Regions from separate parts of the Homo sapiens genome. Here region 2 is linked to region 1. The links come from fine-mapping of genetic effects on gene expression. A gene starts in region 1. The other region holds a variant in brackets. All regions are shown on one strand. Distances are between the middles of the regions. Region 1 holds the start of PTK7 (protein tyrosine kinase 7 (inactive)). Region 2 overlaps PTK7 (protein tyrosine kinase 7 (inactive)).

Evidence for each region.
Region 2: its variant is fine-mapped to the expression of PTK7 in whole blood (TOPMed, PIP above 0.99).

The regions. Positions count from the first base shown.
Region 1 is chr6:43,067,295-43,082,954 of GRCh38, reverse strand. PTK7 (protein tyrosine kinase 7 (inactive)) reads right to left here and starts at 6,641. Exons shown (of 20, transcript NM_002821.5): 1 at 6,388-6,641. The coding sequence starts at 6,466. KLC4 (kinesin light chain 4) reads right to left here. Exons shown (of 16, transcript NM_201521.3): 7 at 12,500-12,601; 8 at 12,090-12,263; 9 at 11,581-11,680; 10 at 11,336-11,388; 11 at 11,033-11,103; 12 at 10,700-10,808; 13 at 9,991-10,131; 14 at 9,617-9,732; 15 at 8,990-9,053; 16 at 7,862-8,333. The coding sequence ends at 8,283. It overlaps KLC4-AS1 (KLC4 antisense RNA 1), which reads left to right and starts at 6,725. Exons shown (of 2, transcript XR_002956347.1): 1 at 6,725-7,260; 2 at 7,688-8,622. RefSeq lists enhancers at 1-212, 6,983-7,506, 11,273-11,773, 12,610-12,904 and silencers at 1,247-1,450, 6,554-6,653, 12,610-12,904.
Region 2 is chr6:43,135,601-43,151,814 of GRCh38, reverse strand. PTK7 (protein tyrosine kinase 7 (inactive)) reads right to left here. Exons shown (of 20, transcript NM_002821.5): 8 at 12,833-12,966; 9 at 12,544-12,679; 10 at 12,290-12,409; 11 at 9,998-10,147; 12 at 9,734-9,884; 13 at 9,516-9,643; 14 at 8,195-8,398; 15 at 7,209-7,364; 16 at 6,383-6,615; 17 at 5,117-5,197. Among named protein-coding and RNA genes, the nearest start is that of SRF, 28 kb to the left of the region's middle. RefSeq lists an enhancer at 8,300-8,389. The variant C/G (reference allele first, on the strand shown) is at 9,317.

The DNA of each region.
Region 1 (15,660 bases):
GTCAAAGCCCAGCGGAGACATGCCTCCCTTTATGAGCCAAATGTATTCCTGAAAAGTTGTCTGTCGACCAAATTTCTGCCTAACAAATCCAGTTTCTCCACTGGCTTTCGTTATAAAATCAGCCGTATTCTCCTCTAGGAAAAGCTGAGGTTCTGAGAGGAGCTAAACATCAGGCTGAATATTGCAGACTTCCTAGAGTCACACATTTAATGGAGAAATTTCTTGACAAAATCTAATTCAATTTAAACCCAAAGGAGGTAATATTAAAGCGTACACATCACCCCAAGGAGTGTTCGCATAAAGTGAGTTATTTAAAGCAAATCTTCAAATACTGTGCAGCATCTCAGCTCCCAATTTATACTGTTGCAACAGGAAAGCTCTGTGCCTTGAGATTCTGTATAAAGAAGGATGCCTAGGCCAGGACTTCTGGAACTCTGGGGTACAGAGTCACCTGAGCATCTTGTTAAAATGCAGATTGCAGCAGGGCACGGTGGCTCACGCCTGTAATCCCAGCACTTTGGGAGGCTGAGGTGGGCGGATCATGAAGTCAGGAGTTCGAGACCAGCCTGACCAACATGGTGAAACCCTGTCTCTACTAAAAATACAAAAAAATTAGCCTGGCGTGGTGGTGCGCGCCTGTAATCCCAGCTGCTCAGGAGGCTGAGGCAGGAGAATCGCTTGAACCCAGGAGGTGGAGGTTGCAGTGAGCCAAGATCGTGCCACTGCACTTCAGCCTGGGCGACAGAGTGAGACTCCATCTCAAAAAGAATAAATAAATAAATTGCAGATTGCGATTCTGATTCATGCTCCCAGGAATGCTGATGCCACGTGGCCCTGGGTCTTTCTTCAAGTAGCACAGTTATAGATACTCTAGGCCCCTACCCAGTTCTCTGAGGAAGCAACTTTAGCACCAGTTTTTAAGTTGCAGTCAGCTTCATACGTAGCGGTGCTTACCCACGCACAGAACTTGGAGAAAGCTAGAAGACCCACCACATCAAAACTGAGAAAAACCACCACCAAAACCAGCCAGCCCAGGATCAGGGAAGGAAGGTCTGATCCTTAATTTGGTCACCGTAGAGCAGGCGCAAGGAGGAACAGGCAACCCCAACTCAAAGAAGCTGGGGAGGGTGCAAAAGACTCCCCATGCCTAGGATGCAAGGGGATATTTAACTCCACCCTTGATCATTCTGCCCTGCACCCAAATGGTTCATTCACTTTTTAAATAAACCTATATGAGGACCTGTTATATCGGCTGGGTGCAGTGGCTCACGCCTGTAATCCCAGCACTTTGGGAGGCTGAAGTGGGCAGATCACCTGAGGTCAGGAGTTCGAGACCAGCCTGGCCAACATGGGGAAACCCCGTCTCTATTAAAAATACAAAAATTAGCTGGGTGCAGTGGCACACACCTGTAAACCCAGGTACTCAGGAGGCTGAGGTAGGAGAATCACTTGAACCTGGGAGGTAGAGGTTGCAGTGAACCAAGATCGTGCCAATGCCTCCAGCCTGGGAGACACAGGCAGACTCCATTTCAAAAAAAACAAAAACAAACAAACAACAAACAAAAAAACCACCTACATAAGAACCCATTATAAATAAGTACTGTACTAAACTCTATGGGAGAGCCCCTCAGTAAATTAAAACAAAACCCAATAGGGGCAAAAATATGGATGGTGTCGCAAGAATGACAGTCCAGAAGTTCTACAGTGTCTACCTTCTGGCAGGAGAGATAGGACAGCTTCAGGGAAGAAGAGGCGGTGGGGCTGGGCAACAGAGAGACAGGAGAAGGCAATGTACAACCGGGGACTGGCCCGAAGGAAAGAAAGGTGGGAGAAAACCAGATATGTGTTAGGAGATGGCAAATATTCCAGCTGGACTGGAATGGAGGGTCCCAGTAGGTAAAATGTCTATTGTTGGGAATGACTGTAAAGCTGAAGGAATCTTTGAAGCACACCACAGAGGGAAGACCAAGAAAGGGCTGTGTGTGTGTGTGTGTGTGTGTATTTTTTTTTTTTGAGACGGAGTCTCGTTCCGTCGCCCAGGCTGGAGTGCAGCGGCGCGATCTCGGCTCACTGCAACCTCCACCTCCCGGGTTCAAGTGATTCTCCTGCCTCAGCCTCCTGAGTAGATGGGATTAGAGGTGTGTGCCACCACACCCAGCTAATTTTTGTATTCTTAGTAGAGACGGGGCTTCACCATGTTGTCCAGGCTGGTCTTGAACTCCTGACCTCAGGTGATCCGCCTGCCTTGGCCTCCCAAAGTGCTGGGATTACAGATGTGAGCCACTGCACCCGGCCTACTTCATTATACTTAATCCTCAGCACAACTCTAGGATGTCCCTTTATAGAAGAGGCTGAGAAGCTAAGAGGTTCATCCAGGGCCACAGGGCCTGCCAATGAGTCTGAGTTGCTGCTTTGCCAGATATACTCCTTATCCCTGGGCTCCACATCCCTCAACAGAGGATCAAAAACACTGGGGGAAGATAAAAATTAAAAACAATACAACAATAAAAAAGAATACAAATTAAAGAATACAACAGTTATTTACATAGCATTTCCATTGTAATAGGTATTACAAGTAATTTACAGATTTTTTTGTTTTTTTTGAGACAGAGTCTCGCTCTGACACCCAGGCTGGAGTGCAGTGGTGCAATCTCGGCTCACTGCAAGCTCTGCCTCCCGGGTTCACGCCATTCTCCTGCCTCAGCCTCCCAAGTAGCTGGGACTACAGGCGCCTGCCACCACGCCTGGCTAATTTTTTGTATTTTTAGTAGAGATGGGGTTTCACCATGTTAGCCAGGATGGTCTCGCTCTCCTAACCTCATGATCCGCCCACCTCAGCCTCCCAAAGTGCTGGGATTACAGGCGTGAGCCACTGCATCCTGCCCTTTTTTTTTTTTTTTTTTTTGAACTCTGTCACCCAGACCGAAGTGCAGTGACACAATCATGGCTTACTGTAGCCTCAACCTGCTGGGCTCAGGCAATACTCCCACCTCAGTCTCCTGGGCAGCTGGGACCACAGGCACGTGCCACCATGCCTGGCAATTTTTTTTTTTTTTTTGTACAGGTGGAGGTCTCATTGTGTTGCCAAGGCTGGTCTTGAGCCCCTGGGCTCAAGCGATCCTCCTCCCTCTGCCTCCCAAAGTGGTGGGATAACAGGCGTAAACCTGGCCCTTAGAGATGATTTAAAGTATACAGGAGAAGCTGGGCATAGTGGATCATGCCTGTAATCCTCATACTTTAGAGCACTGAGGCAGGAAGACTGCTTGAGCCCAGGAATTTGAGGCTTCAGTGAGCCAAGATTGTGCCACTGCACTCTAGCCTGGGTGATAGAGGAGACCCTGTCTCATAACAAAACAAAACAAAAGTATACAGGGAAGTTGTGTGTACGTTATATGTAAATACGACACCATTTTATATAAGAGACTTGAGCACCCTTGGATTTTTTTTTTTTTTTGAGACGGAGTCTCGCTCTGTCACCCAAGCTGGAGTGCAGTGGCACGATCTCGGCACGATCTCGCCCAAGCTGGAGTGCAGTGGCACGATCACTGCAAGCTCCACCTCCCGGGTTCAGGCCATTCTCCTGTCTCAGCCTCCCGAGTAGCTGGGACTACGGGCACCCGCCACCACGCCTGGCTAATTTTTTGTATTTTTAGTAGAGACAGGGTTTCACCGTGTTAGCCAGGATGGTCTCAATCTCCTGACCTCATGATCCGCCCGCCTCGGCCTCCCAAAGTGCTGGGATTACAGGCGTGAGCCACCAGGCCTGGCCGCACCCTTGGATTTTGTTATTCTCAGGGAGTCCTATTCCAATTCCCTGCAGATGCCAAGGAAGGACCATACTTTATCTCCATTGCTTGAGCTCTGTCCACCACTCAATGCTGCTCTGAACACCAGGAGTTTGAGTATATCATTTGACAAGTGACAAGAAGAGCACCCTTGCCCTGCCACCATACTTCCCAACAGCTGAGAAAAGCCATCACTAATAAAAGCAACTCCTAGGCCTGAATTACAGGCTGCAGAGCCTTGAGGAATCTGCAGACAGCCTATCCCAGAACATGACGACTCAATTTCCCCAAAGAAACAAGAGCCCGGAGGAAAGAAACCAGGGAGGGGGATGGGAATTGGAATGAGAAGTGACCACAGCTGACTGTACAAGAGGTTGGGGTTAAGAATCCATAGTTTCAAACATCAAGCCTCCTCCTCCTCCACCATATTTATTACAACAGCATCTCAAAGTTTGGAAAGTAACTCTGCCATTTATGGCATAATTACCCAGACTTTAAAATGGTCTAATCCACAAACCTAGCCAGCCTAGGTTCCTTACTCCAGCCTTATTAACAGTGGGATCTCACTACAACTCCAGTTAATTACACAATTAAACAATGAGATGCAAACATCTACTGTGATCTATTAAAAAACCGTTGCCCCTGAAGTCATGCGTCTGGGGGTGGGTTGAGTCCCAGGATTTCACTAGAAGACAGCAGGCGCCTCGGCCTCCACTGAAATTGTTTACAGCACATGGACAGGTTCCACAACAAGGCACATTTGGTGGAATTGATTTAAGGCTCTCATTAAAATGTTCCTTTGTTGAGCACAAGACATCCCCCCACCCCTGAGGAGACTACAGACCTCCTGTCCTAAGCCCTCAGCCTGCCCTAACTTCCCCCAACAGGATCCCCCACACACACGCGCGCACACACACTAAACACCAACCAGTCACCAGATTAAGTCAATTAACATCAGAGTCATCTTCTCATGGAAGGAATTTAGGAATTCAGCATTTGTTGAGCAAGAGCCCCATCTTCACCAGAAACTCCCCTTGACTCTAGTACCCTGAACAGCAGCAGTGAAGGCAGCCTCATTGGGCAGACCCACACACCAAAACCCAACCAGGACAGCCAGGGGGCCTGTGAGCTTGGGCTGCTCGCCCAGATGGCTGGGCCCCCATCCTGGCTGTGCAAAAAAACTTCCATACTTCCTCTGGGAGCAGATGTGGATTCTGCCACGAGCAATAACCACCACACACATCACAAGAAAAACGGGGCAACTCCAGAAACACCTCCTCCAAATCCCTGGAGATTGGTCTCTTTCCTGGGTTACATTTACCTCTCCTTTTACAACTGGGGGCAGGGGAGATGTTGATTCCACCAGCACCAAAACCCCTCCACAGCTGGCAGGCCAGAAAGATATTAGAAAGGCAATTCCTTACCCATGCCCTTCCCATTGCCACCTTCAAAGGAGATGGAAGGTGATCACCTAGGACAGGTCTCCTCGACAGAGCTCCCCAAGAGAAAGCTGCTTCGAGGACCACCAAGGAGTGTTGTGGAGGGTCGGGGGCTTTATTTCCAGTCCGGGCTATTTGGGATGTGCGGGTGGCTTGGTGCTTTCCTGTAAGGCACTTCAACACCTCAGTGATGACTCTTAGGTGTGACCAAGCCAGGAAATAAAAGCTGCGGGAGTTGGGGGGGCGGTGCTGTCTGCCCTGGTGATGAGGGCCACACCCTCGTTAAAATGCTAAGGCCCCCCCCCAAGAAAAGCCAGAATGAGCTCTTTTTGCCTTTCTTCCCTTAGAAATACTTCCTTTCCTCTGTGAGGACAGTCAGGATGGAAATCCAGGAAGGAGCAGAACAAACCCCGTCCGCACCTTTGCAGCCAGGCCATGCCCGATTTTGGCAGCGGCCTTCACACATTAGTCACCGCGACAGCCTGGGACCCTCGGATCCCCGGATTCGGCCCTGGCACGGAGTGGGCGCAGGGTTCCAGACCAGTAGCTAGAGGCCATGGATGGGGGCGGCCCCTAACTCTTCCCTTCTTCCGCCCTCACCCGCAGGGCCATCTGGGGTCTCAGCTTTGCCCAGGAACTCGGAGGAGGGAAGCCGGGAACGTCGGGTCGGCGTAGGTAACAAAGCTCCGCGCTTTGCGCGCCGCAGGTCTGTCCGGCATCGGGCCCCAAACCAGCAACTCTTACCTGGGCCGACCCTGCCGGGTGGGGTGGGGAATTCCTTTTTCTCCATCGCGCTCCCCACGGTGGGTGCGGATGGTCTTTTCTCCCCCGACAAGAAACTCCCCATCTGGGCCCGAGAGCCAGCAACTCTCGGCAGTTCTCGAGCAAACTCTCGGCTCAGACCAGAAAAACTCAGGGAGGCTGGAAATGCGTCCCCGCGGCGCGAGTGGGAGGGGTACCCTGACCGCGTCCCTGGAGGCTTCGCCAGCCTCCCGACACCCGGGCTCCTTGCGCCCTTCCGCCGCAAGCCTGCACCCCCAGCGAGCCTCTCCACTACTCCAGGGCCGTTCCAGCCGCCCAAACCCACCGCCCCGGGCGCAGCCTTTTGCCCACGGGACTCCCGCGCTTCCCAAGCTCTGTGCCCCCAACTCTCGGGTACTCACCGCCCAGCAGCGGCAGCAGCAGGACGCTGAGCAGAGGCAACCGGCGGGGTCTGGCCGGGGATCCCCGCGCAGCTCCCATCGCGGCGGGCTCAGGAAAAGGAGCTGAGGGCGCACGGCGGGCGCGCAGACTGCGCTCCGCGGCGGGCACAGGAGGCGGAGCGCACCGGAGCGCGGGCGCCGCAGCAGCAGCCGCAGCCGGAGCCCGACCCCGAGGCGTCCCGAGGCGTCCCGAGCCGGAGCCGCGCGCGCCCAGTACCTCCGAGTCCCCGCGCGCCGCCGCCGCCGCCGCCAAGCCCCGCCCCACGACGCCCCCTCCCCTCCGGCCCCCGCACGGCGCCCCGCCCCCTCGACGCCCCCTCCTCGCCGAGGCGGGGAGGAGCTCAGTAGGGGGAGGGGTCTGGAGAGGGATGGAGAATAGAGAGAGCAAGGCTCAGGGAAGTGCAGGGGACCTGAGTATTTGCTGTACCCACCACCGACTCTGCAGGGATCCGGGAGAACCTAAGTGACTTGTGCGATTCCGTGGACCCTGGGGAGAATGGTCCATTCTGGGCATACCTGGAGGCTCTGGCCAACAGTTCCCCCAGAATTCTCCAGGTGGGGGCAGGGGAAGAGGCGGGCCCCGCCAACTCTTCAGCAACCCAAAATCTTAACGGCAGACCCAGAACAGCAGGGTGTCCTTAATGTCCCCAAGTAACCTGAAGATGCTGTGTAGCCCGGAGAGGGGCTGAAGTGTGCATGACTGGGGTCTGGTTTGGCTGTAGACCAATCTGAACCCAAAGGTAGAAACACGCTGGGCTCTGAAAGCCAGGCTGAAGTCTGCTAACTGACAAATTCATCCCAAGTCCATCTCCAGGCAGTCTGGGCTGTGTCAGGGTATGGCCAAGTCTCCAGCTGTGGGGAGGCCCAGCACAACCCTTGTTCCAGGCACCCCCACCCCCAGCGCCACCACCCCCACATTCTTTCTTTGTTGTGAAAGCAGCAAGGGGTGTAGGAGGCGGGTCAGGAGGAGTCAAGCTTTAGAAGATGGGCCCCAGCTGCTGCTCAGGCCTCCAAGATATGCTGAGAGGGGATGGATAGTGCCTTGTCTCCCCTCTGGTTCCGGAGGGCCCCCCAGGCCTGTTTAGACCTCCCTTCCCCCAAGCAGCTGGGAGGAGGAATGGCAGCCACAGAGGGCCTCACAGCCAGGAGAAGTGGCGCCAGGACTCCAGGGTCCTGCCACATGGCCACCACATGTCCCTGACAACCCAGTCCACAGCACCTTCTCCTTGGGTTGTGAGCCTCCTTCTTCCCCATCCCCCAGATGCCTTCCTACAGGCCCTGCTGGAGATGATACAAACAACGGGAGGAAGAGAGGAGAGATCCAAGAATCAACACTCCTCCTGCTGCTCCATCCATCACTGCCCCTCACCTTCTGTGAAGGGCCCCAACACAAGCCCTGCTTCATACCCTCTTCAATCAGGACTCAAGTCACAGAAAGGTTACCTGATTCTTTTATTTAAGAAAAGTGAAATACATGGACCTGAAGTGAGACAGCAGAGGGAGGGAGTAAGAGCGGCCAGGGCAAGGCAGCTTGGCTGGCCAGCCCCCAACCCTCTGACTGAAAAGCCAGCAGCAGGCTGCATCTCTGAGGGCCATACCTGCTTTGTACCCACCTTGGGGCCTCAGAGCTAGCTACTCTAGAGGACCACAGGGTGCAGAGAGGGTGTCCTGAGGGTCCTTCCTAAGAGGGATTCCTGAGGAGGGAGCTGAGACCCTAAGGGCAGCAGCAATCTTCTGGTTAAACTGCTCCCCTTCACTGTCCCACCTAGGGGTGGGGAAGAGCCAGGAGCAATGGGGAATGCTGTGAGGGCTGTGGGGGTGGGGGGACCCAGCAGACCTGGGGGCCGGGTTGAATGTCAGCTGCTTGAAGAGAGGTCCATGGTGCTGGCACTGAGGCCCCGGGAGACCTGAAACAGACAACACTACCCCATCAGCTCAGGGACCTCGGCCTCCCAAAGACTGGCTCCTAGAGTCCATCCATCCCATGGTCACAGTGTATCTCTGGACCTAGGATCACATCTGTCTCTGGACCAGTCTATCTCTGGACCTGGGACTTTGTTTAGCCTCTGCTAGGGTTTTCCAGAAGGCCACAATCTGGTGGAGAAGCTACCTGGAAGAACCACATGAATACTGGCATATACTTGTGTGTTGATACAAGAAGTCATTTGCCATTAAAATATCACTAGTGTTTTCTCAGATGGGGATTATTTAATACTTTTCTTTTTCCATTCTCATCTACTACTAAGGCGGCTGCAGGATGAAAAAATAATTCGTATCTCCAAATAATTCTTAAATTATTCATAATTCCAAAGTACCAGTTTACAGAATATTCCTATTTCCCTCCTTATTAACTTATTTGCTACTATGTCTGGCCTGAAACTGTCCCTTGGTGGTCAGCACTCACCACAAGCTATCTGCCTGATTCCTTAATGACTGCAATCCCCTGGCTCATCTTCATCCCAGATGACTCCTCTCCCTTCCCTCTTCCCTTACTCCACTGGGCTTGCTCACTGGCTGTCCTTTTTTCCTCACCCACCAATATGCTCACAAGCACTGCTCTCACCTGGAGGGGTGCTGCACTAGGTTGGTTCAGATAGTTCAAGGAGGCTGCTCGCTTCATGTTGCTGCTACAATGGAAAACGGAAGAATTGAGGCCTCCTCTCTTCCTCCTGAGTGGCCTTAAGGCTGTGGGCCTCTTGAGCACTGCCACACTGGGGCACCCATTCTACCCAAACTCTCTCTCCATGGCTGGCCCGTTGACTTCCTCCCTGTTTCTCTCCGAGATACTTCTCCAGAGATCAGGAGCCAAGAGGAGTTGGAGGCAAGGGCTTACTTTACTTGCCTGCTTTACCATATCTTTTTTTTTTTTCTTTTTTTTTTTGAGACGGAGTCTCGCTGTTGTCGCCTGGGCTGGAGTGCAATGGCATGATCTTGGCTCCCTGCAACCTCTGCCTCCTGGGTTCCAGCAATTCTCCTGCCTCAGCCTCCCAAGTAGCTGAGATTACAGGCACCTGCCACCACACCCGACTAATTTTTGTATTTTTAGGAGAGAGTTTCACCTTGTTGGCCAGGCTGGTCTCAAACTCCTGACCTCAGGTGATCCACCCGCCTCGGCCTCCCAAAGTGCTGGGATTACAGGCGTGAGCCACTGCACCCGGCCACTTTACTGTATCTTGACTTCCATGTATACCTGGAGGGCCGAGGCTCAGTCCCCTGGAGCTTCCTCACCAAGAGTTCACTGCTTCTGCGGAGCACATCCCGGATCTTGCCAAGAGAGCCACTCCTCTGCAGGGTCCCACTGCCATCCTGGCAGAAAGGAGTGAGCAATGAAAGCTACAAGGATCCCACACAGATGGGTTTCTGAGTCTACTCCTAGCATTTATTCTGCACACATCCCCCACCCCCAAGGCCCAGTGACTGGAAATAAAAGTCCTGTCAAAAACTGGCTCCCAGAGATACCCCTGAAGGAATACACTACCTAGACTGGGACAGCATGGCCAAGAGCCTCTCACCACCACCAGCAGGAGTGGGCAGGAGAGATGAAAAGGCAATGATCAGACTTACCCCGGACCACTCCACAGCCACAGAAGCATCTTCACCTCCCTCGAATTTCACACTGTCTCCAGGGCCCTCCTGGGAGGTCCTTCTACCATCACTCTCCCCAAGCAGCTCTGCCACCTTCGTCTGGCTGATAGGGTCAGTGCCCTGGAAGGAAAAGGAAGGACCTGGGACTTCCTACTCCTTAACTCCTCAGGATGGGGCTTTCAAATTTTTTTCACCATCAGCCACTGGAAGGAAAACATTTTTCCTTGTGATGTCTCAGTTTATACCTACTGGAATAATACTTACCTTTTCTATTTGCAATGCATTGCTATATATAGATCTGTATATATTTTTATCCCCATGGCCCATACTGAATTGATTTCACAACCTACTATTGAGACCCACAATCTAAGAAATTCTTGATTTAGGCTCTCCCCAACCTCACTCCTCTCACCCATACCACCCAGGTCCCCTCCTTATGAAAGGGCAGGGTTTCTCCTTCATATCCCCATTTAGTGAATCTTGAAACTAGAGTCCTGACCACAAAATGCAGGTGGGGGGTAAGAACATGCTTAAAAACAACCACAATCACAACACTGCCTCACTTTCCTCTCCCTCCTGGCTTCATCAGCCTTTCCGCTTATTCTTAGGAGACTCCCAAGAAACCTCGGCACTCTCTCATCCCCAGGGCCCTTCCCTCTAGGACCTCCTTCCCCTCTGGGCTTCTGACCTGTCTCCGGGACCGCAGGGCACATTCCTCCAGGGTCTCAGCAGCCTCCAGCTTTCCCTGGCGCCTATACAGAGCTCCCAGGTTTCTCAGAGTAGTGTTCACTGTGGGGCTGTGGTGAGAAAGAGACCAGAGAAGGAAGAGAGAATGAGTTCAGAAAACAAAACATTTGTCTTCCAAGCAAGACAAGAGGAAAAAAAATAAGAAAATAGGAGAGGGAACAGAGCTAAAGCTGAGGGAAAGTCTACGGGAGGAAGGGAAAAGGTCTGGGAGGCTGGGAGCAGGGACTGGATGGAGGGCATCGGAGGCCAAGCTGGCTTTTCACTGTCAGCTCACCTGCTCACTTTGCAGGCCTTGTACCAGCCTCCATACTCAGCATAGGGTGTCCCACCCTCATGGTGCCGGCTCTGCAGGACAGAGAGAGGCCAGAAAGAAGGGCAGGGAGAGCCAAATATAAGAATACAGAGATGCTGAGATGCAAGGTGGCATGGGGCTAGGGTGCAGGCTGGGCTGGGGAGGACACCATGCATCTGGGGCTGGTGCTGGGATGGGAAGTGAGAGTTGGGCTAATGCAAGGAGTAAGACAGAGACCCCGGTAGCCTTGAGCTCCCCAGGCTGGCCCCCCTTCCCCCCACTCACTTTGCTCATTTCCTCCCGCTCCTCTGCATGCATCCAGATGGGCTTGTGGTCATCTAGGGGTGATACATGGGGTGGGGAGGTTAGAGATGGGAGCTAGACAGTGTCGGAGAGCCAGGACCCAGAGGCTGACAGGCTGGACTGAAGGGGTCTGGCTCCCCCTGGGAACCGCTGTGGCCTAACCCCCGACCTTTGGTCTGAATTTCTTTTCTTCCCCACAGCCCCTTCCCCAGGCCCTCACCACTCACCATCCACAGACCCAAACTCCTGTACATGGGCACGGGTCAGGATCTCTTTGTATAGTGTCTCAGCCTCAGCATATTTGCCCTGTTTCAGGTAACAGGAAGCCTGGAGGACAGAAAGGCAAAAATACAGGAACAAAACATGGAGGGAGGCAAGGTCTTTTTTTTTTTTTTTTTTTTAGACAAGGTCTTCACCAGGCTCAGGGAGTTCCACTTCTCAGTGTCTCTCTCACTTTCCCCAGAGATCTTTCTCACACCTCCTTCTCCAGGTGTAGGGTCAAGGGTATTCCCAGCCCACTCCCAAGAAGCTGTGGAACTTCTATAACTGGAATGAAGCAGATCCTTCATCCGCAAAGGCAGCCCCAGACATGAGCACAAAGTTGATGAGAGCAGTGTGCCAGACTGTGATGCTTCCTGACTCTAGGACCCAAGTGGCCTCTCCGCCTGCCCCCCCTCCCCCCACCTCTGTGCCCCCCTCTCCGTTTCTTCCACCTACTTTGTCCCTCCTCCCATACCAGGTTGTTCTTGGTCCGGGCTACATTAGGGTTGTCCGGCCCCAGCTGCCCCTCGTAGATGGCCAGTGCTCGCTGGTAGTAGCGTTCCACGGCCTCATACTTGCCCTGGTTTTGGCACAAGAGGGCCAGGTTGTTCAGCTGTTTTGCCACATCTGGATGATTCGTGCCCAGGACCTGAAAGGGAACAAAGGAGTGGATAAATGGCTATGATAACATGTGTGTGCACAAGCACACGTGTGTTTGCATGTAGGCACACACATGTGGAAAGCAGAGGAAAGGGAATGAAGGAAGAGAGAACAAAGCAGAGATGGGGGTGAGAAAAAAAAAGTGAAGGAGGAGGGTTAGACCAGAGGAGCCATGTAGAGAAGGGTCACAGCGACAAGAGAAGAAGGGAGAGAGGGCATGGGTACCTTTTCTCGAATCTCCAGTGCCCGCTGGCACAGAGGCTCTGCCTCCTTGTACTTGCCCCTTTTGCCATAGAGCACAGCCAAATTGTTGAGTGTGGCAGCCACCTATGAAGACAGGCCTGTCCCCATCAGACATTTGGGTTGCAAAAGACCTATGGGAATCTGAGGTTCCCCACCTCCCAGCAGGGCCCAACACTCACTGCACAACTCTAAGAGACAAAGTCTACTACCCTGGAGCCAGGGGCTGAAGGGAGGGGAAATTGCTGAACAGGATGGCTCTGAGGCTAAGGGACAGTATCGCCCTCTAGGGGATTTTAAGAAATTTCTGGAGGTGTTTTTTTTCTTTCTTTTTTTTTTTTTTTTGTTGTTGTTGTTGTCACCATGAAGATTACCTTTGAGGAGGCAAGAACGCTATAGATGTTCTGCATGTGTGGGACAGCTCTGCCAATTTTTTAATGTCCTGCCAGACATCCAAACGCTAAATGTAAACATTGATATTTGATGGGATATCAAGACAGGAGTATGATTTCTGAGATACATCATCCCTGCCTATCATATGTCATACCATAGGGAATTATTTTCACACAGATCACATTCAAAAATAGCTTTTTGGCTGGACGCAGTGGCTCACGCCTGTAATCCCAGCACTTTGGGAGGCCGAGGTGGGCGGATCACCTGAGGTCAGGAGTTCGAGACCAGCCTGACCAACATGGAGAAACCCCGTCTCTACTAAAAGTACAAAATTAGCCAGGCGTAGTGGCATGTCTGTAATCCCAGCTACTCGGGAGGCTGAGGCAGGAGAATTGCTTGAACCCGGGAGGTGGAGGTTGTAGTGAGCCAAGATCGTGCCATGTTGCACTCTAGCCTGGCAACAAGAGTGAAACTCTATCTCAACAAAAAATAAATAACTTTTCAGCTGGGTGTGGTGGCTCACACCTGTAATCCCAGCAGTTTGGAAGGCTGAGGTAGGTGGATCACTTGAGGTCAGGAGTTCAAGACCAGCCTGACCAACATGGTGAAAACCCATCTCTACTAAAAATACAAAAATTAGCCTGGCGTGGTAGCACGTACCTGTAATCCCAGCTACTTGGGAGGCTGAGGCAGGAGGATCACTTGAGCCTGGGAGGCAGAGATTACAGTGAACCCAGATTGTACCACTGCACTATAGGCTGGGTGACACTGCGAAACTCCATCTCAAAAAACAAAACAAAACAAAACAAAACAAACAAACTTTTCATTTTTCATTTTCTGTACATTGACAACTCTATCATTTGCCTTGGCGTGATATCTCTACTTAAGGTTGTTTCTCTCTTTCCTTTTATTTATATTTATTTATTTATTTATTTATTTTAAGATGAAGTCTCACCCCATCACCCAGGTTGAAGTGCAATGGTGCGATCTTGGCTCACTGCAACCTCAGCCTCCTGGGTTCAAGCAATTCTCCTGTCTCAGCCTCCCGAGTACCTGGGACTACAGGTGCATGCCACCACAACTGGCTAATTTTTGTATTATTAGTAGAGACAGGGTTTCACCTTGTTGGTCAGGCTGGTCTCAAACTCCTGACCTCAGGTGATCCGACCACCTCGGCCTCCCAAAGTGCTGAAATTACAGGAGTGAGCCACAGCGCTGGGCCGCTTCTTATTTTGTTGAGACAGAGTCTTGCTCTGTTGCCCAGGCTGGAGTGCAGTGGTGCGATCTCGGCTCGCTGCAACCACCAACCCCCGGATTCAAATGATTCTCCTGCCTCAGTCTCCAAATAGTTGGGATTACAGGCATATGCCACCATGCCTGGCTAATTTTATATTTTTTTTTTAGTAGAGACGGGGTTTTACCATGTTGGCCAGGATGGTCTCAAACTCCTGACCTCAGGTGATCGACCTGCCTTGGCCTCCCAAAGTGGTGGGATTACAGGCGTGAGCCACCAAGCCCAGTCTCTTCCTCTTATACACAAATAAATCTGGTCTGTCATTTATTTTCTTTTTTTTTGAGACAGAGTTTTGCTCTTGCTGCCCAGGCTGGAGTGTAGAGGCGCGATCTCACCTCACTGCAACCTCCACCTTCTGGTTTCGAGTGATTCTCCTGCCTCAGCCTCCTGAGTAGCTGGGATTACAAGTGCCCCCCACCACGCCCGGCTAATTTTTGTATTTTTAGTAGAGACGGGGTTTCACCATGTTGGCCAGGATGGTCTTGAACTCCTGACCTCGTGATTTGCCCACCTTGGCCTCCCAAAGTGCTGGGATTACAGGCATGAGCCACTGTGCCCGACCCTTGTGATTTCTTATAATACTGTACTTTAATAAAGTGTCCACCTATATTTTCTTTTTTTTTTTTTTTTTTTTTTTTTTTTGAGACGGAGTCTCGCTCTGTCGCCCAGGCTGGAGTGCAGTGGCGGGATCTCGGCTCACTGCAAGCTCCGCCTCCCGGGTTCACGCCATTCTCCTGCCTCAGCCTCCCAAGCAGCTGGGACTACAGGCGCCCGCCACTACGCCCGGCTAATTTTTTGTATTTTTAGTAGAGACGGGGTTTCACCGTTTTAGCCAGGATGGTCTCGATCTCCTGACCTCGTGATCCGCCCGCCTCGGCCTCCCAAAGTGCTGGGATTACAGGCGTGAGCCACCGCGCCCGGCCTGTCCACCTATATTTTCATTTTTTTTTTTTTTTTTTGAGACGGAGTCTCGCTCTGTCACCCTGGCTGGAGTGCAATGGCACGATCTCAGCTCACTGCAAGCTCCGCCTCCCGGGTTCACGCCATTCTCCTGCCTTAGCCTCCCGAGTAGCTAGGACTACAGGCGCCCGCCACCACGCCCGGCATTTTTTGTATTTTTTTTAGTAGAGATGGGGTTTCACCATGTTAGCCAGGATGGTCTCGATCTCCTGACCTCGTGATCCACCCTCCTCAGCCTCCCAAAGTGCTGGGATTAGTGCTGGGATTACACTCGTGAGCCACTGTGCCCAGGCCACTTTGCTATTTCTTTTAACAAAGTTGTACTCAATACAACTACTGTTGTTTTGTATTTTTACCTTATTATATTACATTGTATATATTGTCCTTACAAATTACTTTTCTTGTTTTTCTTTTATATTTATTAGAGTAGCATATTAAGTTTTGTAGAAATCATATGTGGATTTACCTATGACTTATCTATTAATTAAATTCAAGCAAA
Region 2 (16,214 bases), 69 kb before region 1:
CTGTAATCCCAGCACTTTGGGAGGCCGAGGCGGGCGGATCACGAGGTCAGGAGATTGTGTCCATCCTGGCCAACTTGGTCAAACCCCGTCTCCACTAAAAATACAAAAAAATTAGCCGGGCATGGTGGCGGGCGCCTGTAGTCCCAGCTACTCTACTCGGGAGGCTGAGGCAGGATAATGGCGTCAACCCGGGAGGCGGAGCTTGCAGTGAGCCGAGATCGCGCCACCACACTCCAGCCTGGCGACGGAGTGAGACTCCGTCTCCGAAAAAAAAAAAAAACAAAAAACAAACAAAAAAACGGGGCTTGGGCGCGGTGCCTCACGCCTGTAATCCCAGCACTTTGGGAGGCTGAGGCGGGCGGATCACGAGGACAGGAGATTGAGACCATCTTGGCTAACACGGTGAAACCCCACCTCTACTAAAAATACAAAAAAATTGGCCGGGCGTGGTAGTGGGCGCCTGTGGTCCCAGCTACTCGGGAGGCTGAGGCAGGAGAATGGCGTGAACCCGGGAGGCGGAGCTTGCAGTGAGCAGAGATCACTGCCACTGCACTCCAGCTTGGGCGACAGAGCGAGACTCGGTCTCAAGAAAAAAAAAAAAAAGAAGGCAGGTGGATGGCATGTCAGGATTACTGGGCCTCTCTTCTCTGGGTACAGGGAAGTACACTGGGGTTTCCATGAAAAAGCAGAGTCTGGCTGGGCACAGTGGCTCACACCTATATTCCCAGCACTCTGGGAGACCAAGGTGGGTGGATCACAAGGTCAGGAGTTCAAGACCAGCCTGGCCAATATGGTGAAACCTCATCCCTGCTAAAAATACAAAAATTAGTTGGGTGTGGTGGCGGGCTCCTGTAATCCCAGCTACTCGGGAGGCTAAGGCAGGAGAATCGCTTGAAGAGCGATCCCAGCTACTTGGGAGGCGGAGGCTGCAGTGAGCCGAGATGGTGCCACTGCAACCCAGCCTGAGTGACAGAGACAGAGCGAGACTCTGTCTCGGGAAAAAAAAAAAAAAAAAAAAAAAAAAAAAGCTGAGTCTACATCCCTAAAATAACCCCTGCAGCACCGTCCTCAGAATGCCTCAGGTGCACTGGTGGTAAAGGGGCCAGGCTGCTTCAGTGGCCATCATAAACAGAGCCAACTCCACTTCAGGCTTCAAAATCCCAGGGCATTGTCCAACCTTGCTTGATTCTCTGTAAGCGGCAGGCAAAGGTTTTGGTAACGTGCCCTCATCAGACTTGTGAGTCCCCTTGGCCTGCTCTCTCTGATCTGGCTCACAAGTTAAACAATCTGCTGCTAGTCAAGGTAAACAGAAGAAGGTGGACTTGGCATGGTAACTGACTTGCTATCTTTCCAGAGAGGTGGTGCTTCCGGAAAGCAAGGGCAGTAAAAGGGAATTCTGTTAGACTCAAGCCAATTCGGTGTTTCCTTTATGCTGGGCAAGATGCCATCAGATAGCCACTGGAGTAATTCTCAAATACTGTTATAAAAGACCCGTTCTTTGGTAAAGATCAGACCCACTCCTTCCTTTCCAATTTTAACACCCCAGGGGTTTGCCCATGTTCTGGCTAACCCACTGTGATGCTATGAGATCTCACAAGAGGCCTTCTGTTTCCTGCCACGGCATCTGACTGCATAAAGCATGGTCCACCAGGTGTGCTAAGCTGATCCTGCTTCTCATCACATCATTAGTTCACAAGTGATCCATGAAGCAATCACAGATTACAGCTCTCTGATATCATCTTATCAGCTACTCTAAAAGGCATTACCTACCATTATGCCAACACCCAGGACCCATGTCTTTGATTTCTGTCACTAACTCACTGCTCTCTTAAAATCCTCCTGAGGCTCCCCTCAGCCCACTCACACCCAATATGGCACTTTGGTGCCAACTCTAGCTGGCCAGGGAACACCCTGCCTACCACTCCACCTCCCTAGAATACTTAAGTTCAAGACCAGCCTGGACAACATGGCGAGACCCCCATTTCTACAAAAAATAAAAATAAATAAAAAGAGGACAGGATAGAAAACATCAAGTGCATCAAACACAACATTGTGAAAGTTTAATTTTAGTTATATGAGCCTGCACACCAGATCATGAGTAAAATGCATTTCTTTTTTGTTGTTGCTAAGTGATGCAGGTCTTGCTATGTCACTCAGGCTGGCCTCACTCCTGGGCCCAAGGGATCCTCTGGCCTCAGCCTTCCAAGTAGCTGGGATTACAGGCACATACTGCTGCACCAGCTTAAAATGCATTTCCTAAAAGGGATTATAATCAAAAAGCATTTCAAAGCTACTAGTCTCCACCAGGGCTCCTTGAACTTTAATGAGCTTAGGAATCAGCTGGAGAGCTTGTTTGAAAAATTCACATCTTTAGACCTCACTCTCAAATACTCTAATTCCCTCATTCTGAGTCATGGTCCAGAAATCTTTTTTTTTTCTTTTGAGACAGGGTTTGACTCCTGTTGCCCAGGCTGGAGTGCAGTGGCAAGATCTCAGCTCACTGCAACCTCTGCCTCCCAGGCTCAAGCGATTCTCCTGCCTCAGCCTCCCGAGTAGCTGGAATTATATGCACGTGACACCATGCCCAGGTACTTTTTGTATTTTTAGTAGAGATGGGGTTTCCCCACGTTGGCCAGGCTGGTCTCAAACTCCTGGCCTCAAGTGATCTTCCCGCCTCAGCCTCCCGAAGTGCTGGGATTTCAGGTATGAGCCACTGTGCCTGGCCTGCATTTCTTTTTTTTTTTTTTTTTTTTTTGAGACAAAGTCTTGCTCTTGTCTCCCAGGCTGGAGTGCAATGGCACGATCTTGGCTCACTGCAACCTCCATCTCCCGGGTTCAAGTGATTCTCCTGCCTCAGCCTCCCGAGTAGCTTGGATTACAGGCACCTACCACCACACCTGGCTAATTTTTGTATTTTTAGTAGAGACGGGGTTTCACCATGTTGGCCAGGCTGGTCTCGTACTCCTGACCTCGTGATCTGCCCGCCTCGGCCTCCCAAAGTGCTGGGATTACAGGTGTGAGCCACTGAGCCCTGCCTGTTTTTTTTAAAAGCATCCTCTCTATGTAACGCAGAGTATGGTCCTTGGAGAGTGTAGAACCCAACTTATTAAAGTTCCCCCATCATATTTAAGACACTATGGCAAAAAAGTGTGAAAAAGATATTTAGCAAAGATGGTGATGACTTGCAGTCAAATAGAGTCCCTTAGGTCACATGAGAAAGGTAACTGACTTCCTGTCAGCCTATGTCTCATCCCAGCCAGAGAATCCCACCTTGACTCCCCTGACTCTTGAAGCCATCCCCTTTCTGCCATTCAACTACATCCTGTCCTTGTGAACTAAACTCAAATGGTTTTCTCTACTAGGAAGACTTCTTTGTTAACCACAACCATCTGTCCACCTACAGGACATGGGTGTCTTCAACATCTCTTAATGCCTCCCACTTGCTTTCTGTTTTACCTCAAGTCTGTAAGGCACAGGTCATACTCATGTACCTAATCTCCTCACTAGATCATAAGTGCCCCAAGGGCAAGATGCCTGTCCTTTCCCCCCCTCCCCTCCCTTTGAGACAGGATCGTGCTCTGTTGCCCAGGCTGGAGTGCAGTGGTGTAATCATGGCTCACCGCAGCCTCGACCTCCTGGGCTCCAATGATTCTTCCTCCTCAGCCTCACAAGTAGCTGGGACTACAGGCATGCCCCCACGCCCGGTTAACTTTTTTTTATTTTTTGTAGAGACAGGGTCTTACTATGTTGCCCAGGCTGGTCTCAAACTCCTGAGCTGAAGCAATCCTCCTGCCTTAGCCTCCCACCGCACCTAGCTGATGCCTGTCTGTTTTAATTTTGCATTCCCAAGGGCCCCTGGGGCCACACCTGGCTCAGTGAGGAGTCACTGGCTCTGTGAGTGTCCTAATTTGTGAGCTCTTTAGTCCTGAAATCTCACTTAGCTGGTGTAGCAAGTCCCATCCTGTGGCTTCTCCTCTACAGCCACTATACACAGTTCCTGCAGTTTCATGGGGAAGGAGGTAGGGGTGTGGTGTCAGGTGGCCAGGTCACTTGTCCTGTCTGGGTCTTAGTAAATTCACATGTAATAAGAGGGGGCCAGCCTGAAGGGCACAGAGCTGCTTCCCCAGAGAGATTGGGGGCAGCCAGGGTCCCATTCACCTGATTCATCTGCCAGCCATGCCTTTCTGCTCTGCCTCCAGAGTCTGTGACCTGGGACAGCCTAGCAGGCAAGGAATGGTCCCCTGGGAGAAAGGGCAGAGCCTTCTGCCTACCCTGCCCTGAGCTCTGATTTGGTTTATGAGGTCACTTCACTGCCAGCTTGGAAGCAGACTCTCCAGTCACATGGAAGGAAGTAGATCCATTTCAGAGGGGAGAGGAGGCAGCTGTGGGCAAGAAGAACCTGAGGGAAGGAAGAAGGGGCCGGGCCACAGCAAGCCCCAGGCACTGGAAAGGTATGGACTGAGGTGGCAGGGGGTAGCAGGCAAGCTTTCCCTTCTTCACTGTTTCAACCAAGGTCTGCTCTACCACAGGGGCCCCAGCCAGGGCTCTGTGCCCAGAACAACCTCTGCGCAAAAGGCAGGAGGAAAACTGGAATGAAAGGCTGGGCAGCTACAGCCCAAGGGAGAGGACAAGATGCAAACCACAGAGGGGGAAACCCAGGCAGCCCATTCACAGAAGAGTCTTCTCCACTCAGAGCTGAAGAAACACGCTCAGGCCCACAGCTAGCCCAGCAGGCCCCTGCACTAGGACTGCTTGCTGCTTCTCCAGCTCAGAGCTCATTGCAGGTGGGCAGGCGTCCTGCTCCAATGCAAGCTCCTGCCCAGAGGCAAGGTCCGAGGGTAGCTCTTCTCCGTGAAGCCAGCATGGCAATGCAAAGCCACTTCCAGGCTACATGACCTGGGACAGGTCAGACAACCTCCTAAGCCTCAATGTCTTCATCCACAAAATGGGGATAGTAGTATATATTTCAGACGACTACCGTGATAATTACAGTAACACATGTGAAGTTCTTACCATAGGGCCTGGCCCATAGAGAGCCCTCAATAAATGGTGCCTCTGTTGCTCCTGGCCCACCCCTGGGCACCCTCTCCCTCCCTCCTTCACTCCCTGTCCTCACCTTCTGCTTGGTGCTGAGGGGCTGTGACTTCAATTTTTCATCCTTGCTCTTGGAAATCCTCAGGAACTGCTTGAGGTCTCCCTAAGGGAAAAGCCAGGCATCTCGCTCAGGTCAGTGCACAGCCATTGGCTGTAAAGCCTCAGACCAAGCAGGTGCTCGCAGAATTCCTGCCTGGGGAGGCAGTGAGAAGGCCTAAGCTAGCCTGGGCCCCTTTCCCAGGGGGAAGTTCACTGGGAGTGCAGAACTTTAAAAATATATAGGAGACGCCTCCTAGAGGCTGTCTCAGTTAGAAAGGAGGAGAATTGGCATTTCTACCCCAAGGGGAACCTCCAGACAGGTGGGGCAACAGAGCCCCCATCTTCAGTGAGCCAAGAGGAAAACAGTCCCCTACCCTCTGCCCTCAAAGATTCCTGAGAGGAAACCCCTGTCCTCCAGAGCTTTACAATCTAATCTAAACAAACAAAGGAGAACGCCAGCAGCAGAAACATACATAAAGCATTCATAAGTACTTGTTTGTTTGTTTTTAATTTTTTTGTAGAGACAGAGTCTTGCTATGTTGCCCAGGCTGGTCTCGGACTCCTGGCCTCAGGCGATCCTCCTGCCTCAGTCTCCCAAAGTGCTGGGATTACAAGTGTGAGCCACTGTGCCCAGCCGCGTAAGTACTTGTTAATGGAAAGACTGATAGGACTCCTGCCCGCTCTTGCCCCAGAACTAGGGATTTGAGAAGCAGCAGTTTGAGGACCATGGGGTGAGGGCAAGGACCAGCTGGGGAATGAAGAGGAAGGCGCAGCTCTGGGAATGACACCCTGAGTGGAGAGGAGAAGGCTGGTGGCTGGGGTAACACTCATGTCACAAGTGGTGCTAGGAAGGAGGGAGGCAAAGTGGGTTCTGATATATTTATTCTCAAGTGGGGACAAGCTTTTGGGGAGGAAAAAATAACAAACCAAAGAAAACAAGAGTCAGAGAAGATGACCTGGAAGGCATCCCTGCAGTGTGACAGTGAGAAGTCCCAGAAAAACTTAGGACCAACGCCCCTGAGATACAGATGGAAAGACTGGGTGCTGATAAAGGGAAAGCAGGCATCCAAGAGCAGGGAAGGCAGAAGCTGAGCATCATAAGGTGGGCAAAGTGTAACAGCAGGCAGGTGAGGTCTCGGCTGAGACTGCACGAGACAAGGTTTTCACGGTGCTCCAACCACTGACTCCCACCTTTGTAGGACACTGCCCTCCCTACCCGAGACCCCCACGTCCCCTGCCAACAGCATACCAGATCCACATATTCCAGCACCATGTAGTGGGGCTCAGCCTCCCGGCACAGCCCCAGGAGCCGCACCACGTTGGCGTGGTTCAGCTTCCCAAACATCTCCAACTCCCTCCGGAAGTCCAGCTGCTGCTGCTCATCCTTGCTCTGCAGGCTCTTCACAAGTACCAGGGTCTCTGCCACTCCCTCCTCCAAGCCCTGAGCCTTTGCCAGGAACACCTCCCCAAACTCACTCTTCCCTGTGGGTACAGTCTGAGTCAGCCAGCCACCTTCACCCAGGCCGAGGCAGCTCCTGACCTGGGGGAGGGGCCTAGCCTCTCCCACAGTGGGGACCCACCCACCTGGGCTGGGCACGAGACCCGGTTCTGCTGTGACCCCCTCCCTCCTTAGGCTTCAGTGTCTGCAGCAACAAAATAAAAGGGTGGGACTAATATTCAGCATTTTCCAAAGGGTGACTCGCATGAGAATTTTTGGTGGCTCATGGTAAACATGTCTTAACGTATGCTAGGAAAAAACGTAACTATGACAAACCCATGATTTCTCATATTTTTTCCTAGAACAATGGTAACTTAGTTTTTTTTTTTAAAGAGTCAATTTAAATAAAACATCAAGTAAATAATACTACAGGTAGTACACAGGAATGACAAAATCTGCACGAAGGGCAGTGAATAACAGGCTCTGGGGCCACACTGGGCTAGATCTCTACCTATGCTTCCCTCCACCTCTAACATTCTAGGTTTCAGGGACTTCAGAACACTAGCCCGTACCCAGCCTCAAGACACAGCGGGTGACTTGTAGTTAGGCAGGGGCAGCTGTAGTCAAGGCAACATACCCAGCGTGGTGATGGGCTGCAGGCTAGACCGTGGGAAGTGCATCTTATCACTTGTGCTGTGGCGTTTGTTGGTGGCCGCGGGGCCGGAGCCCAAGCTGGTCAAGGCCACTTCTTCTTGGATCTCTGCTGAGGGCTGCCCGTTCTGCAAAGGCCCACCTGGGAAGGAGGAGGACAAGAGCGTCACGATGAGACCTGACACTCTGGCCACCATGGGGATTTCTGTTCTGTCCCCTGGTCTTCCACTCTTGCCAACTTGGGTCCAATCACAGTGCTCCACATGAAAGGGCAAGCCCAAATGATGAAATAATGGGGCTGGGGCTGGGTGGGGGATGTATGGCTATCCCCTAGGGTATGACCCCTTAGTGATGCAGCTGATTATGACCTCTGAGATGAAGCCAACTGCAGACATCTAATCTGAATCACTGGTCCTTAATACCATAGCTACACATAAGGATTTTTGCTTTCATGGGGCCTCCTATTGGGCAAAGCCCTAAACAGGCACAAAGGGAAAATCACAATAATGGAGACCCAACCTCTGCTCCTGAACACCTGAGCTGATAGGAGAGACCCAGCAATGACCTCAAGGAGCTCCCAGTCCAGGAAGTGGGGATAGGAGAAGGGAAGTAAACAGAAAGACTGCCCCTGGGGGAGCTCTTAGACTCATAGAGGGAGACAAGACATGCAACAGCAACGTGTGTACATATACTAATGATATCTGTGGTTTTGTGCTGGGAGGAGGAAACAGCAGGGAATCATAGGAAGCTGGTCCAAGGGGCTCCAATGAAGAAGTCTCAAGCCAGGTTGCTCAGAAGACGAGGCCCTGGGAATCCAACTCCAGGCTTCCCGCTAGGGGTGGGGCAGTCCCAGCTCCAGGACCCAGCAACAGCCGCTCGGTTTCCAGAGTGCTGGCGCTCTCCCCTCCGTGGCCGCGGGAGGGCGCTCAGCTCCCGCACACGGGCACCACCTCCCCGTCCAGGGCCCCTCACCGTTGAGGCATTCCATCTCTGGCTCCTCGCCCTCGGGCTGCTTCTGCAGCCGCTTGGCTTTGCAGCGCTTCTTGCAGTAGAACATGAGGCCCAGCACGGCAATGATGTAGGCCACAGCGGCACCCACCGACAACCCAATGGTCTGGATCATCTTGTAGGGGGGAGGGCTGCCAGGGCCCTCCGACTCCTCCGGCACAGGCTTGTCTGAGAGACACACAGATGGGTCTGGGCAGGGGCTGCTAAGCAAAAGAAGCCCTGCTTCTCTACTAACTCCTCCCAACCCCATCAACAGGGCAACTTAACAGATGGCCCGGGAGGGTCACCACCTTCACTGGCTTTAACAAGGGCCAGCAGGTCCTCATGCCCCACCAAGGTCAAACGAAGACTCTGAAGGAGATGAGGCCAGGGGTTCCCAAGCTGGCTTTGCATCGGAAGCCAAGACAGGCGACACGGATAAGCACACCTGTCAAGGAGCTACCACAAACCCACGTTATTTGTTAAGCTTCCCAAGTGACTTGATAATGTGAGCCAGGCCCCGGAGAGCAGCATTTGGGAGCTTCAGGTTTAGAATTCCAGGCACTGCCTGGCACAGAGCAGGTTTTTCAATAAGCAGATCTGTAGAAGGGATCTGCTGGTCTAGGGGCCTTTTAATGGCCCACACTGAGGGGCCTCAAGAGGCATTAGGGGAATGAAGGGAGACCATGCAGGATCCCCCAACTGCCACACACACCCCAGTGGCTCCCACCAAGGGGGCCTCCTCAGTTCATTTTCATCCATTTAAACTTTCACATTATACTTTGTCTAGAAAAATAACTCTGCTGCCAAACCAAGAAAGTTTAAGAGCTTCTCATTTAAACCACTTTCACCTGTGGATGCAGAAACAAGTCCCCAGAGGAGAAATAAGTCTCCCAGGGGCAGAGAGTTAAGTGCAGGGCCTTTTACCTGACCCATCATCCTCTCTGGGCCTCCTGGAGAAAAGAACCTTGTCCTACTGCATTCTGACCTGGTCCTCCTCCCCAGCCACCCAGAGATATGTGTGGCTGCTGCAGGAACCTGGGAGGCAGCATTGTAGGAAGAGAACACCCCCCCACTCCCCCACAACACACACACACACACACCGAC[C/G]GTTGGATGTTAAATAAACGACAGCCCGGCTCTGAGCAAGGACTCTAAGACTGTGCAGCAGCATGGTGAGACGGCCGAATCCCCACCGCTGCCACAAAAATGGCTTCTGTGCCATGTTCTGTACACAGGGGCTGAGTACAAGGTGACAAACGTCTGGGCCCACCACTTCCTGTGCAGCATAACCCTCCCCAGCCCATACCCACGACATAGAGGGGGGCCTCCGTGTGCTTGATGTTGCAGCTGTTGCCTGCAATGCAGGTGTAGCGGCCTGAGTCCTCAGGGGCCACGTCATGGATCACCAGGGAGCCATTCTGGAAGATGTGCATCCTGTCGGGGGAGAAGCCATAGTGCTGGCCAGCTCGCAGGGAGGGGGGCTGCAGGAGAGGAGGGACGGGTGTGGGAGAGAGGTGGCCCTACCTGGGTCCCAGCTTGGTGGGGTCCAGGATGCGGTCCTTGCCTTTCCACTGAATCAGCGGCTTGGGGTCCCCCTGGGCCTCGCACTGCAGTAGGGCTGTGTGGCCCTGGTACACAGTCGTACGCTCTGGTTCCACTTTGAAGGTGATAAAAACTGGAAGAAAAGAGACCAGCGAGGCGCAGGGAGGGGTAAGCCAAGGGGCTGGCAGGGTACACGGTGCTACCCCAGAGGGCCCTCCCAGCCCCAGGGCCCTGCCACGGTCGCACCTGCCACAGTGAGCTGGACATGGGCACGAATCTGGCCCTGCGGCCCGTTGGAGGCAATGCAAGTGTAGTTGCCAGCGTCATCTCGAGTCACCCGGGCAAAATGCAGGGTCCCAGCGTTGTCTGTCACCCACTCTGGGAGGCTGCTCCCATCTGCAGGGGTAACAAAGGGAAATTATGGGAAGGATCAGGGTTACACAGACAGCTGGCAATGCCTTCAGTCCCTCACCTCTACTCAAAAACACACCATCGCTCCTGACCACCCACAGGCAAAGTCCAAACTCCTGAGCCAAGTGTTAGAAGCCCCTCCGTTATTTACCCCTCTTCCAATTCTTCAGTCTCACCTCTTCCTCCTACTGCCCTGTGTGACATTCCACGTCTGCCAAACCGGACTCTGTTTGGGCCCAGATCGGCCCTGTTCCTACTCCGCTGCCCATCACTTCTCCCTCCTAGAGCCCATTCCCGCTCTTTACCATCCCAGGCTGTAGATCCATTTTAAGCCTCACCTCTCCCAGAAAGTTCCCCCAGACCTGAGCAGAGGGAGCCTACTTCCTCCTCAGAATCTACAACTGTACTCTCTCACTCTAGGTGGAAATGTCAAAATTGGTCCAACCTTTTAAAAAATAATTTGGCAACTCACATCAAGGGCTATAAAAATGTTCATACCCCCTTTCGTGCATAATTATCCCAATTCTGGGAATCTTTCCCAAAGGAAATAAACCTAAATCCAGAAAAAAACTTTGGCTTAAAGATGTTTATTGCAGCAATGAAAAAAAAGGGGGTGGGTGGGTGGCTGGTTAACAACCCAAATCTCCAACATTTAAGGAACAGTTAAGTAAATTACAGTGAATCCAATTGTTGAAATATTATTAGGATCATCAAAACAAATATTCATGAAGAGTGTATAAAGATGTGGGGAAATGCTTGACAATGGTAAGTAAAAAAGGGTATAAAATTACACCGTTACAAAAAAAATAAAAATAAATAATTTTAAAAAATATTTTTAAAAACTACATAGTTATCTGTATTGTCTAATTCTACAATAAGCATGTCTACAGGCATGCACCACCATGCCTGGCTAATTTTTAAATTTTTTGTACAGACAGGGTCTCCCTGTATTGCCCAGGTTGGTCTTGAACTCCTGGGCTCAAGCGATCCTCCCACCTCGGCCTCCCAAAGTGCTGGGATTACAGGCATGAGCTACCACACTCAGCCAATCATGTAAATTTAATAACTGAAACTATATATACAATAAAACTGCTAGGTAAAAAAAGAAAAACATATGCACAGAAAAAGAAGACATACACCCAAAGATGATAAACGGCAGGACTGTACATTTTTTCTCCCAATATTTTTTTTTTTTTTTTTGAGATGGAGTCTCGCTCTGCCACCCAGGCTGAAGTGCAGTGGCACAATCTCGGCTCACTGCCACCTCCGCCTCCTGGGTTCAAACAATTCTCCTACCTCAGCCTCCCGAGTAGCTGGCACTACAGATGCGTGCCGCCACCCCTGGCTAATTTTTTGTATTTTCAGTAGAGACGAGGTTTCACTACTCTATGTTAGCCAGGATGGTCTCTATCTCATGACCTCGTGATCCACCCACCTCAGCTTCCCACAGTGCTGGGATTACAGGCGTGAGCCACCACGCCCGGCCTCTTCCAGTATTTTGTAAAGGAGCCCATGTAACTTTTGTTTCTTTTTTCTTTTGAGTCAGAGTCTCACTCTGTCAGCCAGACTCTGGTGCAATGGCATGATCTCGGCCCACTGCAGCCTCCACCTCCTGGGTTCAAGCGATTCTCCTGCTTCAGCCTCCTAAGCAGCTGGGATTGCAAGCATGTGCCACCACGCCTGGCTAACTTTTGCATTTTTAGTAGAGATGGGGTTTCACCATGTTGGCCAGGCTGGTCTCAAACTCCTGGCCTCAAGTGACCCACCCATCTCGGCTTCCCAAAGTGTTGGGATTACAGGCGTGAGCCACTATGCACGGCCTCCATGTAATTTTTATGTTGGAAAAGATAAACTATTTTGGAAAAGGGGAAGAGAGGACTTTACAGCACTGTCTGAACCAATCCAATCACTTGTTGCCTTGAGTTGTCTTCCATGTTGTCCAAGGCTATAATCTGACCTCTTCTGTGTCTGGCTTTTTCCTTCCTAACTAAACTATACATCAGCCCTGCACTGCTTGTCTAATCTCCACATTTCCTGGCACAGTGCGGGGCACCCAGCAGCCCTCAGGTATGTATCTGATCAGTGAACTGCCTGCCTGCCCCTACCCTATGCCGGCACTGTACCCACCTGCCCGTTCCCACTTAATAGTGGGCTTCTCTCGGCCTGTGGCTGAACAGGGCACCGTGGCCTCCTTGTCAAACTCCATGCACTGCTGTGGCTGGGGTGGTGGTGTGAACTTGAGCTTTTCTGTTTCAGCAGAGGGTGGGTAGAAAGACGAGGAATTGGGGCCGCTGGAGAGGCCGTGGCCAGGCCTGCTGCTCCCTCCCCTTTCCTCTCCTGCCTAGCCAGGAAGGGTGCTCCCCCAAGACATGCTGGCTCACCCAGCACTTGGACACGGGCTTGCGCCTCGATGCTGCCGGCTGGGGTGCTGCTCATACAACGGTACCATGTCCCATCATACACCTCCACGCTGTTGATGCGCAAGGTCCCATTCTTGAAGACCTCGAACCGTGAGTCCTGCAGCACAGGTGAGAGGCCTCAGAGCCTGAACCCACACCCACCTCTCCCTGGAGGCTGCCTCCAGGGTAAGAGTGCTATGGAGGTGAGCACAGAAGAGGGCAAGTGGAGGGAAGGCCCCGCCCATCCACTAGCAACACTCTTCTTTCTCACCTCTGAGATGAGCATCTGGTTTCTGTACCAGACAACTGTAGGTTTTGGTGTGGCCTGGGTCAGGCAATCCAAGTAGCCGGGTTTGCCCTCCTCCAGCTGGCTGTCTTGGGGCTTCTTCAGCCAGGAGGGCACAGCTAGACAGACAGGAAGGAAACAGTGAAGGCTGCTTCACAGGTCTCCAAAACTAAAGGATCCATCTCCAAGAAATCCTACTACCATTCTAGGCCCTGAGTTCAGAAGCCCCATGCTCCTCAGATGGCAGGAGTTTCCCTTTACGGAAGACCCAGGTGCCAGCACCTTTTTTAAAATTTTTTTTCTTTTAAGACAGGTTCTCACTCTGTCACCCAGGCTGGAGTAGAGTGACACAATTATGGCTCACTACAGTCTCGAACTCATAGGCTCAAGTGATTTTTCCCACCTCAGCCTCCCAAATAGCTGGGACCACAGGCATGCACCACAATACTTGGCTAATTTTTTTATTTTCTGTAGTGATGGGGTCTTGCTATGTTGCCCAGGCTGGTCTCAAACTCCTGGCTTCAAGCCTCCCCAAGTGCTAAGATTACAGGCATGAGCCACCACGCCCGGCCACCAGCACCTTTTGAACATTATCTTAGTTAACTGTCACATTAATTAACTTAGTTAACATTATCTTAGTTATAAGCCCCTATGGTAGGCAGGGAGTGGTGGCTCACACCTGTAATCCCAGCACTTTGGGAGGCCGAGGCGGGAGGGCTGCTGTAAGACACTGCACTCTAGCCTAGGCAACAGAGTGAAACCCCCATCTCTAAAAAAACAAAAAAAACAAACCCCCCAAGGTATGTATTCCAACACGCACTTTACAGCTAAGAAAACAGATGTTCAAAGAAGTAATGGTGGCCAGGCACAGTGGCTCACGCCTGTAATCCCAGCACTTTAAGAGGCAAAGGCGGGCAGATCATTTGAGGTCAGGAGTTCAAAACCAGTCTGGCCAACATAGTGAAACCCCGTCTCTACTAAAAATACAAAAACATTGGCCGGGTGTGGTGGCGGGCACCTGTAATCCCAGCTACTGGGGAGGCTGAGGCACAAGAATCGCTTGAACCTGGGAGGTGGAGGTTGCAGTGAGCCGAGATCACGCCACTGCACTCCAGCCTGGGCGAAAGAGTGAGACTCCATCTCAAATAAAAGATAAAAAATAATAATAACAATAATAAAAAAAGAAGAAGTAATGGTGATTTGCTAATACCTAATAGTGACAGAATTTAAAACTCTGGTCTATATGACTCTGAAACCCTTGTTCTTCTTATTACACCATAAAATGCCAAGGCGCAGTCCTCAGAAATCTGTTCTGTTTTAGCAACACTCACTCATCCAGTCCACAACCTTCAATACAACATGAATGGTTGGTTCCCAAAACTACATCCTGATTCCTATAAATCCAATTGCCTACTGGCATTTCCAACTGGATATCCAACAGGCATCTCAAACTTTACGTGTGCTAAAGAGAACACCTGACTTCCCCCAAAACCTGCTCACTCATTTTCCCTATCTCAGTCAATAGAACTATCTAGTCAGTTAAGAAAGCCAAAAAGCTAGCCTTGTCTTCTCTCTATACCCCACCCCCATCACACTCGTTCTACCAAACCCTATCTACTGGGGCTCCTAAATATATCCTGAATTTGACCACCTCTCACCCCCACCGCTACTGCCTCTGTTCAAGCTCCTTCAGTATCTCCCCTAGACTATTATAGTCATCTACTTAGTATGGGTCTCCTTGTTTATACTCTTGGCCCTAACATTCTAGTCTCAAAACAGCCAGAGCGATCTTCTGAAAAATCAGTCTTCCACTCAAAACCCTGCAAGACCTTCCCATCCAATGTGGTGTGGTAGGCTGCTTGCAATGATAGTTATAAACAATCCTCCCATCCCTTTCAACTCTTTTCAATGTGATGTTGACACTTTCCCATCAAGAGGTAGAGTTTATTTCTTTTTGTGTGTGTGAGACAGGGTCTCATCCTGTTACCTAGGCTGGAGTGCAGTCACGCCACTATGGCTTACTGCAGCCTCAGCGTCCCAGGCTCAAGCAACCCTCTCACCTCAGCCTCCAAAGTGGCTAGGACCACAGGCGCGTACCACCAGGCCCAGCTAATTTTTTTTTTATTTTTAGTAGAGACGGGGTCTGGCCATGTGGTCCAGGCTGGTCTCAAACTCCTAGGCTCAAGCAGTCCTCCCACCTTGGCCTCCTAAAATACTGGGATTGCAGCGTGAGCCACTGAACTGGGTCATGGTGTATTTTTCTAGTCCCTGGAATCTGAGTGGCCTGTGACTTCCCTTGTCCAACAGAACACAGTGGTAGTACTGCAGCTTCCACTTTTGCCCTCTCGGAACCCAGCTGCCAGGTGAGGAAGCCTGGCTAGCCTACTGGAGATGCCATGTGGAGGAGAACTAAGGCACCCTGGTCAATAGCCCCAGTCAACTGCCAGACAGGTGAGTGTGGCCGCCAGGGACCAGGCCAGCTCACCCATCAGCTGACTGCAAACGTGTACACCCAGCCGATAGCACACCAGGTAGACGAGCGGGCCCACCTGAACCTGTCCACAGAATCATAAGCATGTCAACGGCTGTTGTTTGTTGTTTCAAGTCACTACGGTTTGGTTTTTTTTTTTTTTGAGTTGGAGTCTTGCTCTGTCACCCAGGCTGGAGTGCAGTGGCGCGATCTCTGTTCACTGCAACCTCCACCTCCCAGGTTCAAGCGATTCTCCTGCCTCAGCCTCCCAAGTAGCTGGGATTACAGGCATGTGCCACCATGCCTGGATAATTTTTTTTTTTGTATTTTTTATTTTATTTTGAGATAGAGTCTCGCTCTGTCGCCCAGGCTGGAGTGCAGTGGCGCAATCTCGGCTCACTGCAACCTCCGCCTCCTGAGTAGCTGGGATTACAGGCACATGCCACCACACCTGGCTAATTTTTGTATTTTTAGTAGAGACGGGGTTTCAGCACGTTGGTCAGGCTGGTCTCGAATTCCTGACCTCGTGATCCACCTGCCTCGGCCTCCCAAAGTGCTGGGATTACAAGGCGTGAGCCACTGCACCCAGCCATTTTTGTATTTTTAGTAGAGATGGGGTTTCACCATGTTGGCCAGGCTGGTCTCAAACTCCTGACCTCAAGTGATCCACCTGCCTCGGCCTCCCAAAGTGCCACCACGTTTTGAAGTGGTTTGCTATGTAGCAATGGATAACTGATGCCGAAGCCAAAGTCCTTACTATGCTTTTACAAGGCCTATGGGATTTAGTTTCCACCTCTCAGGCAACTTCAACCCCTCTCACCATCGTTTATTCAACTCAAGCCACACAGGCGACTACTGTTCCTCCAACATACAAGCCCATTTCCATCTCAGGGCCTA